Linked DNA regions of Homo sapiens. The protein of the gene in region 2 purifies or fractionates together with the protein of the main gene of each other region. This does not show direct contact. Each region holds a gene or a part of one and is shown on either strand. Other genes may lie near its edges.

Region 1 (3,653 bases), on a different chromosome or scaffold from region 2:
TCATGGGACTAGCAGAACACAAAATAACAACATAAAATAACAACTAATATGTAGAATATTCCTCTAGATTATTGTTGTCCTTTAGGTCAAGATAAGAGAAGTAAAAGAACCACTTACATTTCACAATGATGAAACCAATTACCAAAAACATAATTTCCTACTTCATTAATGGTACTTTCACACTGACTCTAAAAGTAGAAAAATTGAGGAAAACTAGCAATTACATTTTGGTGATAATTACCCTGCAAGTTAGTGACAGATCAAAGATCAGATAAATTTCCTGACTCTGGTTTTGTCACAAGCAAGACTGATTAAAACTTAAAAAAATGGTTCACGTAATCAAAATGAATTGTAAATGGTAAATGAAAATTACTAAGCATTACCTACACTAAAATAAATGTTTGTAAGAGTAATTACAGCACAAGAAATAAGGAACAAAAGGGTGGTTTATATGAGTAGAGTTTTAGGTTAAAAAGTTGCCATCTTTGCTCTTTTATTAAAATAAACTACCTTTTAAAACATTTTTATTCAAGAATGATTTTTATTTTCAGGTTAAATATTAATCAACTATAAGATGTCTCGAAAAATAACTCTGAGGGATTTATAGCCAGCATTAGGTAGGCAGGCCAACTCAGACTTTACTAAAGTAAAACGTTAAGTAGTTTTACCTTTTCATGAAATGCTGTGATCAGCCAAAGATCCACATCAACACTGGTGCCTCGTTTTTCTGCACCAATGAACTGTAATATGTTCTCATGCTTCATTCCAGGCAAACTGTAGACTTCGTATTCATTTTGCCATGACTGTTTGTCCTAGAGTCAAAAAGAAAGAATAGTAAGAACACAAGGAATACAGGTTTAATAAACCATGCATAAGAGATTACTCAAATAAGTTCCAAAGTAAAACAAAACAAAACAAAAAAGTCTTAAAAAATTTTTTGTTCTGTTTTGTAATAAGAAAAAGCTCTGACAATAGGTTAACAAATTTATACTAAATGCCTGCCCTTTTCATTCCCTCAAAACGTACTTTTCTGTGTTTCTAGTTTACAAACACAGAAGGTGATCGGAAATGCTGCATTCTGTGTCTTACAATGGCAACACGTAAGTTACTGCAAGTATTACACTGTAATTTCATCATGGTGTGAAGTTACTTGTGGTACTATTCAGAATAATCTCCTTGAAAGATGAAATTCCGGCAGAATGACTTCCTCTAAATAGAAAACTTCTTCTTTTCAAAAACTAACATAATATCAAACATCCTTCAAAAAATGTTTAGCATACCCTACAAGGTCTATGAGAAAGCAAGGGGCAAAGATATGCAATGCAATAATTTAAGACACCATATATTCACTTGTGCCTGCAAGCAATCCATGTCTACTAAGTATCTACTTATAAAAGATTAGCTTCTTTTCACTACTAAAAGACAATAATAGTAAGAGGCACTATGGCATAATGGTTAGAAACCCTTAGAAACTCTCTGCATCCAAACTGTCCAAACTTAAATCCTGGCTCTCCCACTAACCTCTGGCAAGTTACATAATCCTTCAGTGTCCTCATTAAGTAGAAAAGGCATTGTAGTGTCTGTCTTATAGAATTGTTGTATTATATGTTGCATTTTATGTACATGTGGGTAATATACGTACACATATTAGTGAGTACTCATATATGTAAAACACCCCTACCTGACCCAATAAAAGCATACAATAAAATGTTAGCTACTGTTGTTGCTGTTGTCGGGCTTGTTAATATCATCCAAATGCCTTTCTCTGAGCTTTATGCTTCCTTACACATGGAAATAATTTCTTCCCTTATCTTATTTATGAATCTTGGCACAACAGAATACACTTTCTCTCTGAAAACTAAACTGTGGTTTACAGCTACCAAAAAAAAATGTAATACAGTTCATAAACTCTATGTAAACAGTTTATAGACTGAACAGAGGAGGTAAGATTGAACAGAGGAGGTAAAAAGGTTAAAATCTAGGTATATTAAGACAAAGAAACTGCTTATATGATAACTTTGGAAAAAGAAACATCCACTCTCTAAGTATGGTGGTAGAGCCTGCAACACCAAATCCAGCCAAGACGTCAGTACCAAGGGTATCATGAGCTGCCAGGGTATATAAGCAAGAGATGGGGAAGACAGAATCATCATAAATCTATACCACCAACGGAACAAAACAAAACACAAGAATAGCTCAGAGGTACATTAGATCAGAGTTTTATGAGAAGTCCAGCCAACCTTAAAAACAATTCAACAGTAAACCAATTATTTGAAGTCTCGATTGCCTCTGAAAATGCATCAAACAAAAACTGAAATAATTAAACACTCAAAGTAGAATGAAAGTAAGTCAAGTCTGGTGATATACCTCTAAATACCAATTCTAAAACAAAGTATACTGCTCTTTTGTTTTTTTGTTTGCTTTCTCTGACAACGTAGGGGGATATTAAAATTTAACCACTCAATTAGACTTGTTTATTGGAATCTTTATCTTTATTTAACATTTCTATTAGAATTTTCACTGGCAAAAGATCTACTATGCATTCATTTAATTCCACCACTCCAGACAAACATAATGATTGTTATATTAACAATTCCATTTCTCAGATGCAAAGGCAGGCATTAAAAGAGCTAACTGCTTTCCCCAGTATCACAAAGAACCACCTTGGTACATATGGCTTCTGTTTTGAGACTATTTCTGAGTTATGATGACCTAGCCATAAAACATGTATGTAAGATGACAAAACTGCAATAAACATACCTGTATTGGAAATATTTTGACAGCCACATATTCGTTAAGCAACTGGGCTTTCCAGACACAACCAAATCTTCCCCTTGCTTTCACTTCTAATAACTGCAGTGGTTTCAAACCTAGTAATGGAGAAGGTGGGGGTGGTCCTGGGTCCTACAGATAAATAATAATAATACTATAAATAAGCAGAACATGACACACACCAACTCTGAAAATGAGAAAAAAAGTGAGTATACTGAAAAGTCAACTGACAGAAACAGTAAACACATATGAATGACATTAACTTCAATGTTGCCATAATTAGATTACTAATTATCTATAGTGATCACAAGGCAGGCAACCTGAATTCAGAGTTTCATAATAATGTTCAGCATTATTGCTATATATGTACCACAGGAGAGAAGATCTAAAATCTTTCTGATCAGTCTCAGTAATATTCCCCACTAAGATTTTCTGTGAACTACGAAATACTCCTAACAATATTTCATTTGTTTCATCCAGTGTGTACTTCGAGGAGGATGATTTGAAAAGTGCCAGAAACAGCAAATTATGACTATATATCAGCAAAAACCTCTCCTGAAGATCTATTACTTTCTCCAGTGACTGTTTAAATTTTTTCTTCATTAATCTCAGAGATACCGGCAGTCATTCTTAAACACATTGCAGATAGGTATATCAAATACAAAGCACATACAGGAAATATGTAAGTAAATATTTCTTTAACCAAACTGGTTCATTCTAATTTTAAACATATTAACAATTCATCCCTTTGATCTGAGATAAAAAATCATTTGTGTTCTGGAACTGACTGACTGGCAAAGAAGTACGAATAAAAATCCAGAAAAGAAGTGGTCATCATAGTAGATAACAGGATATGGTAAATGAAAGAAACGTGCACTGCT
Region 2 (4,187 bases):
TTGCTTCGATCCCGTTGCACCAGGAATTCTTTTGTTGTGCTGCAGGTCAAAGCCTTCGATAGCCCCTGGATTCAACAGCATTTCTTTTCTTCCACTTTTTAAAAACAGAGACAAGCCAATTCTCTGGAAGGAGATACAGACCACTTGGGTAACAATGGTACATTTCACATTGCGCCACCGGGAAAGACCTCGCGGGATTGGGGTGGATTTAAGGATTTGGATGCTTTTGTCCGTTCTTTCTCTTTCTTATTTTTTAAACTCAAATATTTCTCCGTGAAATTTTCGGGGAGTGAATCCTAGGGAGTAGTGGGAGTGGGGGTGGAGGTGATTGAAGGAAGATATTGTATTGTAGAGGGACTACCAGATGACAGTTCAGGAACGCTTTCAGAGGAATTTTTTTAAGGCTCAGCTGACAGCACTACAGTCCTGCCTGCTGGGAAGGAATGCAGCTTGGTGGGGAAACTGGGGAGAGCCAAGTGTGCAGCAAAGGAGTCTAATCAACAGGACCCGTGTGCTGTGGATGCTCCCCATCTGCCCCCACCAGCACACACCAATCCTGTCACCAACTCCTCGCCGGGAGGGGAGAAGGCAGGGACTTTTTGGTTGCTAAAGAACTAAACTGAACCTCAATTGCCCAAGGACTCAAAGTTAGTAGGTAGAGATGGTTTTCCCTTAATGGACCCTTTACAAAAGCAAATTTTAAAGCAAAGCACAGCTTACATGTCAATTTCTTACTGCTCTAAAACAGGTAAATCACCTAACAATGTGTTCCTTAAAAGTCAGTCAAAGGCAATTTCCATGATATTTTGCATTTAAAATGACCGCACAGGAGTCCACTGGCAGACAGTAGCTAATTTTAGAAACATGCCACCATACACTAAGTAAGCAGGAGGGCAGAATTTTCTAACATTCTACCCTTAATATTCCAGACTCACCCTATTGCTCCCATAGGTCTTAGCCAAGAAGTAAACCAATACCGATAGCCTAAGCTCAGAATCAGAGCAATTCCCTCTCCCTCCCCAGCTGCCGGCACCCGCACCCTCCCCCCCATCCCCCGCCCAGCACTTTGGGTACCCAATGTGCAGAGGCGGTGACTATTTATCGGGTGTTATCGGAACCCATGATGTGATGGAATCGATGGGTAACCCGGAGGCTGCCCTGAGCTTCCAGATGACGGTAAATGTTGTCTCGGCAATGAAGTCTCTGTTATTTCTTGAACTAAAACCCCTTACGTTCTGGACCTGGGCTGTGTCCTAAAGGCTATCTCACCTTTTTCCTTTTCTTTAGCTCAGGATAGCGCGTCTAAAGGACAGGGAGGGCTCCAAAAGTTAGGGAATATTGAGCCATGGGGCCCCAGTTTTTTCCGTGTCCTGCTGGGAGCGCCCAGAGCCATTTGTTTGTCCAGAGGGAGGACAAGAAGCCCTTTCTCCCTGCTGTGCCCCCTTCCCACTTCCTCCTCCCCACTGCTGGATCTTACAGCTCACTAATTTTTTCAGATCTAAGATTAAGTATTCCAATATGGAAGCAAAACTATCTTCCCTAGAACAAATAATTAAAACGCTGCATCATTCATTTTCTGAAGAGCTTTGAGCCGTCTATAGAGCCTTTTCTAATCTGCTGTCGTCAGGCGAAACGCACAATGGTCTGTTTAGAAACGGAAAATTATTAAAAGCTCAAGCCTTTTTCCTTCTACCTCTTACAACACCAGCGAGCATTCCACTGGGGGAGGGGTCCTTCGCTCCGCCACCTGGCCTATTTGTTGGAGTTACTTACGATGTCTTCACCCAGAAAAGAGGTCCGAGGGTATGTTAGTCTCCGGTACCCCTCCTTCCACCAACGTCCTTACACCTAACTGATCCAATTCAAAACTGCAACAAACCCCTAGCACCTGTGAGCGTACAGAATACACCGCGGCCAAACTCGATGTGCTCTACAATGCACATCCTACATACGAGAAATACTGGTTTCAATTAGGCGAAGTAGGAAAGGATGGCGGCGAGTACCTATGGTGCAGAGCGCTCAGGATCTCCGAGGTTTGCTGCGAGGGGCTACCCAGCAGGAGGGGCAAACTCTCTGCGAAGCTGAATTGTATCCATCATACTGTAGCCTTGTAGCTTCTCCTCTTCTGGCCACCAACTTTCCGAAAGGCTACCGAATCACGCTTGTAATCCGTTTAAATGTTTCCACCTTTGAGACTTGCAGGGAAATGGTCGCTGCATACCAATGGGAGAGCGGGGCGCGCACCTAGCGCGGCGATGCCAGCGACAGGGAGCTCACGACCACAGCTCCCTATGCCCTCGATGGTTGGTAGGCAGGCAGGCAGAGTGAGTGTCCCAGGACTAGGTTCCTTTGATTTAAAATCTCGGTGCTCTGGATCAGTGGAGAGCTTCGTTGTTCCCGAGAGCCTGAGCTCAGTCTCTGGATTTCTCTCTTTCTCTCTTCCTCAAAGGTTGTCACTCACAGCGCAATCCCTGCCCGAGGCCTCCTTCCATCCGAGAAGATGGAATTAGCCCTTGCTTTTCCAGGGTGTCTTTGCTCTTTGCCCTTTAGGTGGGTGGGAGTGGGGGTTGGTGGCGTGTAGATGAGAGAAGAAAAGGGTGGGGAGAGGCGGAAAGGAGGCAGGAAGGGGGCGACTAGATCTCAGATCCCAGCATTGGTCAGACGGCGAAGGTGGGGGGAAAGAAGGAGAGGGGGAGAGAAGATACAAATACACAGTATGGCTGTGCACACCAAATTCCACTTGGATTTGGGAGATCTCAGGCAAAGCACGAAGGTGAAGCGATACCGTTGGCAGAGAGTGAGTCCTCTGACCGCTCACCATTCAAGCACCCTCACTTCTCGAGCGGGAGAAGGTGCGGGGGAGGGGGGTGGGAGGGGGAGGGGACTGCTGAACGTTTCAGGCCAAGGAGACGCTCGCGGCGGCGGCGGCGGCGGCATCTTTTAAGACTGACCTGCTTTAAAAGTGCCACTTTAATGGCCTAGGAAATAACTAAAATCGGATTACACGTTACTTACCAACGTCTCCTCCTAAACTGGAGCGCCAGGTCGTGTATAAGGAGTCAATATAGGAAACGCAGGGCTGGAACCTGAATGCAAATCCATCAGCCGCCCCCAAATCGCGCACCAAGGGAGCGGCGCTCGGGAGCCCCCAGATCAGCCCATCGCCGGAGCTCCGCCAGCGCGTCCCCCCCGCACCCCCGGCCCCTCCTCCGCGCCAACTGTGTAAATCAGCCGCCGCAGTCCTCTCGCCGCGCATCGCAGGCAAAATCCCGGCTTAGGAAGCAAGGAAGCAAGTGATCTCTCTCTCTCTCTCTCTCTCTGTCTCTCTCTCTCTCTCTCTCTCTCTCTCTCCTCTCTCTGTCTCTCTCTCTCTCGCTCTCTCTCTCGCTCTCGCTCTCGCTCTCTCTCTCTCGCTTTCGCTGTCCGCCTTTCCCTCTCCCCCATTATCGGTCACAACCTGGCAGCTCTTCAAGAGACACCCTGTGAAATTGAGTGTCGGGAAGTCAGCATTCTGTACCCGTGGATTGATTTGTAACTTTTATTTGCAAATGAGAGAGATGCCTGTTTGGAAAATTACAGCCCAAAAGGTGGAGGGTGATCAAATTAAGAACATCTGAGCTGTATTGGTGGGCGGTATCGCTAAACGCCTCCGGGGAGCGGTTTCCAAGTGATTTGCAGTAATCCCCCACCTTCATGATACATGGGTGACGATTTGAAAGTACACATATTTCCTCATCTGTTTACATTTGCCGGGGGCGGGGGGCATAAAACTGTAGGGCACAGGGAGTTGGGAGGGGGGCATTTGCCTGAGAGATGCTGGATACCATTTCGCGATAAATTAGATACGGACACTGGAACAATTAATACGTGTAATAACACGTATGTGAAAGTATTATTACAACATTACAGAGGCGACCATTACCCCCACTGCAGTCATACTAATGCAGTCATTCGTTTAATGCTCCATTCAATCTGCAGTGTAAACCAACGCAATTCTTTTTAATAGATCCCTTTCATCAGAGACTGTGTTGGAAAGAGGGCAGTCTTCCACTAACTCCCAAAGTGAATAGAAGGTAGCCTGGGGAATCATCTCTGTATCTCTTGCCATTTCTTCCTGAAGAGAATGCAATACATTGTCCAAGGAAGGCAAAGTTATTTAGCTATTATAATTGTAGGTAGAATGATCT
Region 3 (3,653 bases), on a different chromosome or scaffold from region 2:
TAGAAGAATCTGAGCCTCTTTCCTATTGCCCCAAGGAAATCTTTAGTCACTTACCCAGAGATGCTTGCAAAGCATTAATATCCTGGAAGATGATCAATAAATGCTGACAGTTGATTGACTGATATCTGAGATATGTCAGGTAAATACCTCAGTCCTGGACAGAGAGCCCCTAAGTCACATCTGCCTTTGTGTAAGATGAAGACTGAAGTATGGAAATGTATGTAGTAAAATCACCTCTCGGAACTTGTTTGTAATTCATACAATCTATGTCAATTTTGAAAAATGTATGTAAAGCAGAGAAGGTTGTAGCCAAATTCAATGTATAGTATGCAAGAGTATATTATTTAATAATTTTTAATTGATGCAAATCCCATTAATTTTATAGTTTTATTTTTACATGATTTTAAACTGAAACTATTTATATTTCCTAAGTTCCCCTGTGTTTCTTTCTCACAATCACTGCTGAACGTAAATTTGTTGTTCACTTAATGGAATCACTGTTAAGGACACAGTCACTTGAATATGATTGCTTTTTAAAAATCAAGTCCAGGCGTGATATACTAGGATCACAGTTTCATGGCATGTTGGTCATAATCCTGAGAAAATAGTGACAAAATTATTATTTGTAGATATTAAATACCAGTTTAATAATATGTGTGGAAATCAGATTAAATAGTACATAAAGCCCACCCTAATAACAAGGGCAGGAAAAATTACTTCAAGAAAAACAATAGTAAACCTTAAATTAAAAATAATACAAATAAATAAGCTTTATGAATACATTTTTAAATTTAAAATGTATTGTCTCAATAAATTCCACTGCTGAGACTGTAATTGTATCACTTTCTCCTTATATTCTTCATTGATTATTAGTATATTAGACACCAGAACTGAATAAAATTGACTGTTTCAAGAGAACTCCTTTTTGATGTTTATTATATTATGAAGTTTGATAACTGATTGGTTAGAATAATATATAAATTACTTTTAAAATCTTTTAAAAGTTTTGTTCCTCTTTCCTATTATACTTTTTTGGTAATAGCTTTATTGAGATAAAAGTCACGTACCATACAATTCACCCACTTAAAGTGTACAATTCAGTGAGTTTTATTATATTCACAGAGTTGTGCAACAATCACCACAATCAATTTTAGGATATTTTCATTAGCCCAAAAAGAAATGCTGTGCCCTTTTGCAGTCATCTCCCATTTTCTTTATCCCCTCAGCCTCTAAGCAACTGCACTCCTATAGATTTGTCTATTCTGGACGTTTTCTGTAAATGGAATCATATAACATATAGCCTTTTGTGACTGGCTTCTTTGACTTAGCATAATGTTTTTAAGATTCCTCAACGTTATAGTGCATATCAGTGCTTCATTTTTTTTTTTTTTTTTTTTTGAGACGGAGTCTCCCTCTGTTGCCCAGGCTGGAGTCCAATGGTGCGATCTCGGCTCACTGCAACCTCCACCTCCTGGGTTCAAGTGATTTTCGTGCCTCAGCCTCCCAAGTAGCTGGGATTACAGGCGTACACCACCACGCCCAGCTAATTTTTGTATTTTTAGTAGAGATGGGGTTCCACCATGTTGGCCAGGCTAGTCTCGAACTCCTGACCTCAGGTGATTCACCCACCTCGGCCTCCCAAAGTGCTGGGAGATCTTCATTCCTTTTTATTGCTAATAATATTCCCTTATATTGATATAACACATTTGGTTTGCCCATTTATCAGTTCATAGATGTTTGGGTTTTTTTCTACTTTTGGCTATTTTAAATACTACTGCTATGAGCATTAGCATACCAGTTTTTGTTTGAGCATGTTTTTATTTCTCTTTGGTGTATACCTAAAGGTAGAATTGCTGAGTATTGTAGTAACTCTCTGTTCAGCCTTCTGAAGAACTGCCCAGCTGTTTTCCAAAGTGGTTGTACAATTTTTACATTCTCACCGGCAATGTATGATGATTCTAATTTCTCCACATCCTCACCAACACTTAATATTATCTGCCTAGTGGGTATGAAATATTATCTCATTGTGTCCTATTATTCTTTTTTGACACTGTATCCCTAGCACTTGTGTTTATTCAATTAATATATGAAAAAGCATTGGTTTTCATGTGTGTTTCTCAGTGTACAATTATAGTAAACATATCTTTAGTATCATTATCCTCTAAACCAAATAAATTATTACTATTACTATTATCATTATTATTTTGAGACAGGGTCTGGCTTTGTCACCCAGGCTGGAATGCAGTGGCACGATCAGGGTTCTGCAGCCTCCTCCTGGGCTCAAGCAATCCCCCCAAGTAGCCTTCAGAGTAGCTGGTATTACAGGCATACACCACCACGCCTAATTTTTTTTTTTTTTTTTTTTTTTTTTGTAGAGATGGGGTTTCACCGTATTGCCCAGGCTGGTTTCGAACTCCGGGGCTCAAGTGATCCTCCCTCCTCATCTTCCCAAAGTGCCAGGGTTACAGGCGTGAGCCACCATGCCCGGCCATAAACCAAATACATTATATTATAAATGTAATGCTTGTCTGTTACTTGTTAGCTAGAATATTACTCAAGAAATATTTATTTAAAAAATGACCTAATGCATTTCCTTGAATATTAATTGGTTTTGAACATTTCATGTGGTCATTGGCCATTTCTTCTATTGGGAATTATCTATTTCTATTCTTTGTTTTTCTATAATGTCTCTTTTTCTTACTAGTTTGTCAAAGCTTTTTATATAATACAGACATCAGGTCTTTTGTCTTAAAGGATACTGCAGATGTTTTTTCCCAGTCTGTTGCTTGTTTTTTAACCTTGTTTTTGATGTCTTATGTTCAAGTTTTAAATTTTTATATAATCAAATATGTTAATCTTTTTCTTTCAGACTTCTGGAGTTGTGTGTTGTTTAGGAATAACTTACCCATCTTAAGAGTTAACTATTTATATATTTTCAATCTTTGTGATTTCATAACAAAATATGTCTAAGGTCCCATTTTCCTTTAAGTACTGCTGTGGCCATACTCTTCAGATTTTGACCTGTGATCTTCCCAGTGTCTTTCATTTCAAAATAGTCTAATCACCTTTATTTACATTTAACATAAAAGTTAATGAGAAGGATGTTTTTTGTTTTTTGTGAGGTTTTTTGCTACAGGGTCTCCTTTTGTCACCCAGGTTGGAGTGCAGTGGCATGATCATAGCTCACTCTAACCTCAAATTCCTGGGCTTAAAAGATCCTCCCATATCAGCCTGCTGAATAGCTAGGACTACAGGCATGAGCCACCATGCCTGGCTAATTAAATTTTTTTTTTTTTTTTTTTTTTCCCATAGAGACACGGTCTTGCTATGTTGCCAGTGCTGGTCTTGAACTCCTGGGCTCAAGTGATCCCCCCACTTTGGCCTCCCAAAGTGCTGGGATTACAGGTGTGAGCCACTGCACCCAGCTGAGAAGAGTATTTTAAAACTTCCTTTTTCCATCGCATTATGGTCAGAGAATATGACTTGTGTAATTTCTATTTTTTGGAATTTATTAAATGTCCTTTGTGGCTTACCCATAAAGGAAAATAAAATAAAATTTGCTGTCTAGTTTCAAAGTTCTAGATTTTTTTGTGTGTTTGGCTTCTCCATCTCTGAAGGGTATGTTAAATCCTCCCTATGATTTTGATGTAACT

What was found.
Region 1: the proteins of SLITRK3 (region 2) and ACVR2A purify together in Homo sapiens (affinity purification with mass spectrometry; one large-scale study listed by BioGRID and IntAct). This does not show direct contact.
Region 3: the proteins of SLITRK3 (region 2) and VAMP4 purify together in Homo sapiens (affinity purification with mass spectrometry; one large-scale study listed by BioGRID and IntAct). This does not show direct contact.

The regions. Positions count from the first base shown.
Region 1 is NC_000002.12:147,914,442-147,918,094, reverse strand, and holds part of ACVR2A (activin receptor type-2A isoform 1 precursor), read right to left. Parts: intron 2,905-3,653; coding exon 2,761-2,904; intron 813-2,760; coding exon 669-812; intron 1-668. UniProt on the Homo sapiens protein: On ligand binding, forms a receptor complex consisting of two type II and two type I transmembrane serine/threonine kinases.
Region 2 is NC_000003.12:165,193,577-165,197,763, forward strand, and holds the start of SLITRK3 (SLIT and NTRK-like protein 3 precursor), read right to left. Parts: upstream 2,809-4,187; 5' UTR 2,004-2,808; intron 1-2,003. UniProt on the Homo sapiens protein: Suppresses neurite outgrowth.
Region 3 is NC_000001.11:171,732,013-171,735,665, reverse strand, and holds part of VAMP4 (vesicle-associated membrane protein 4), read left to right. Parts: intron 1-3,653. UniProt on the Homo sapiens protein: Involved in the pathway that functions to remove an inhibitor (probably synaptotagmin-4) of calcium-triggered exocytosis during the maturation of secretory granules.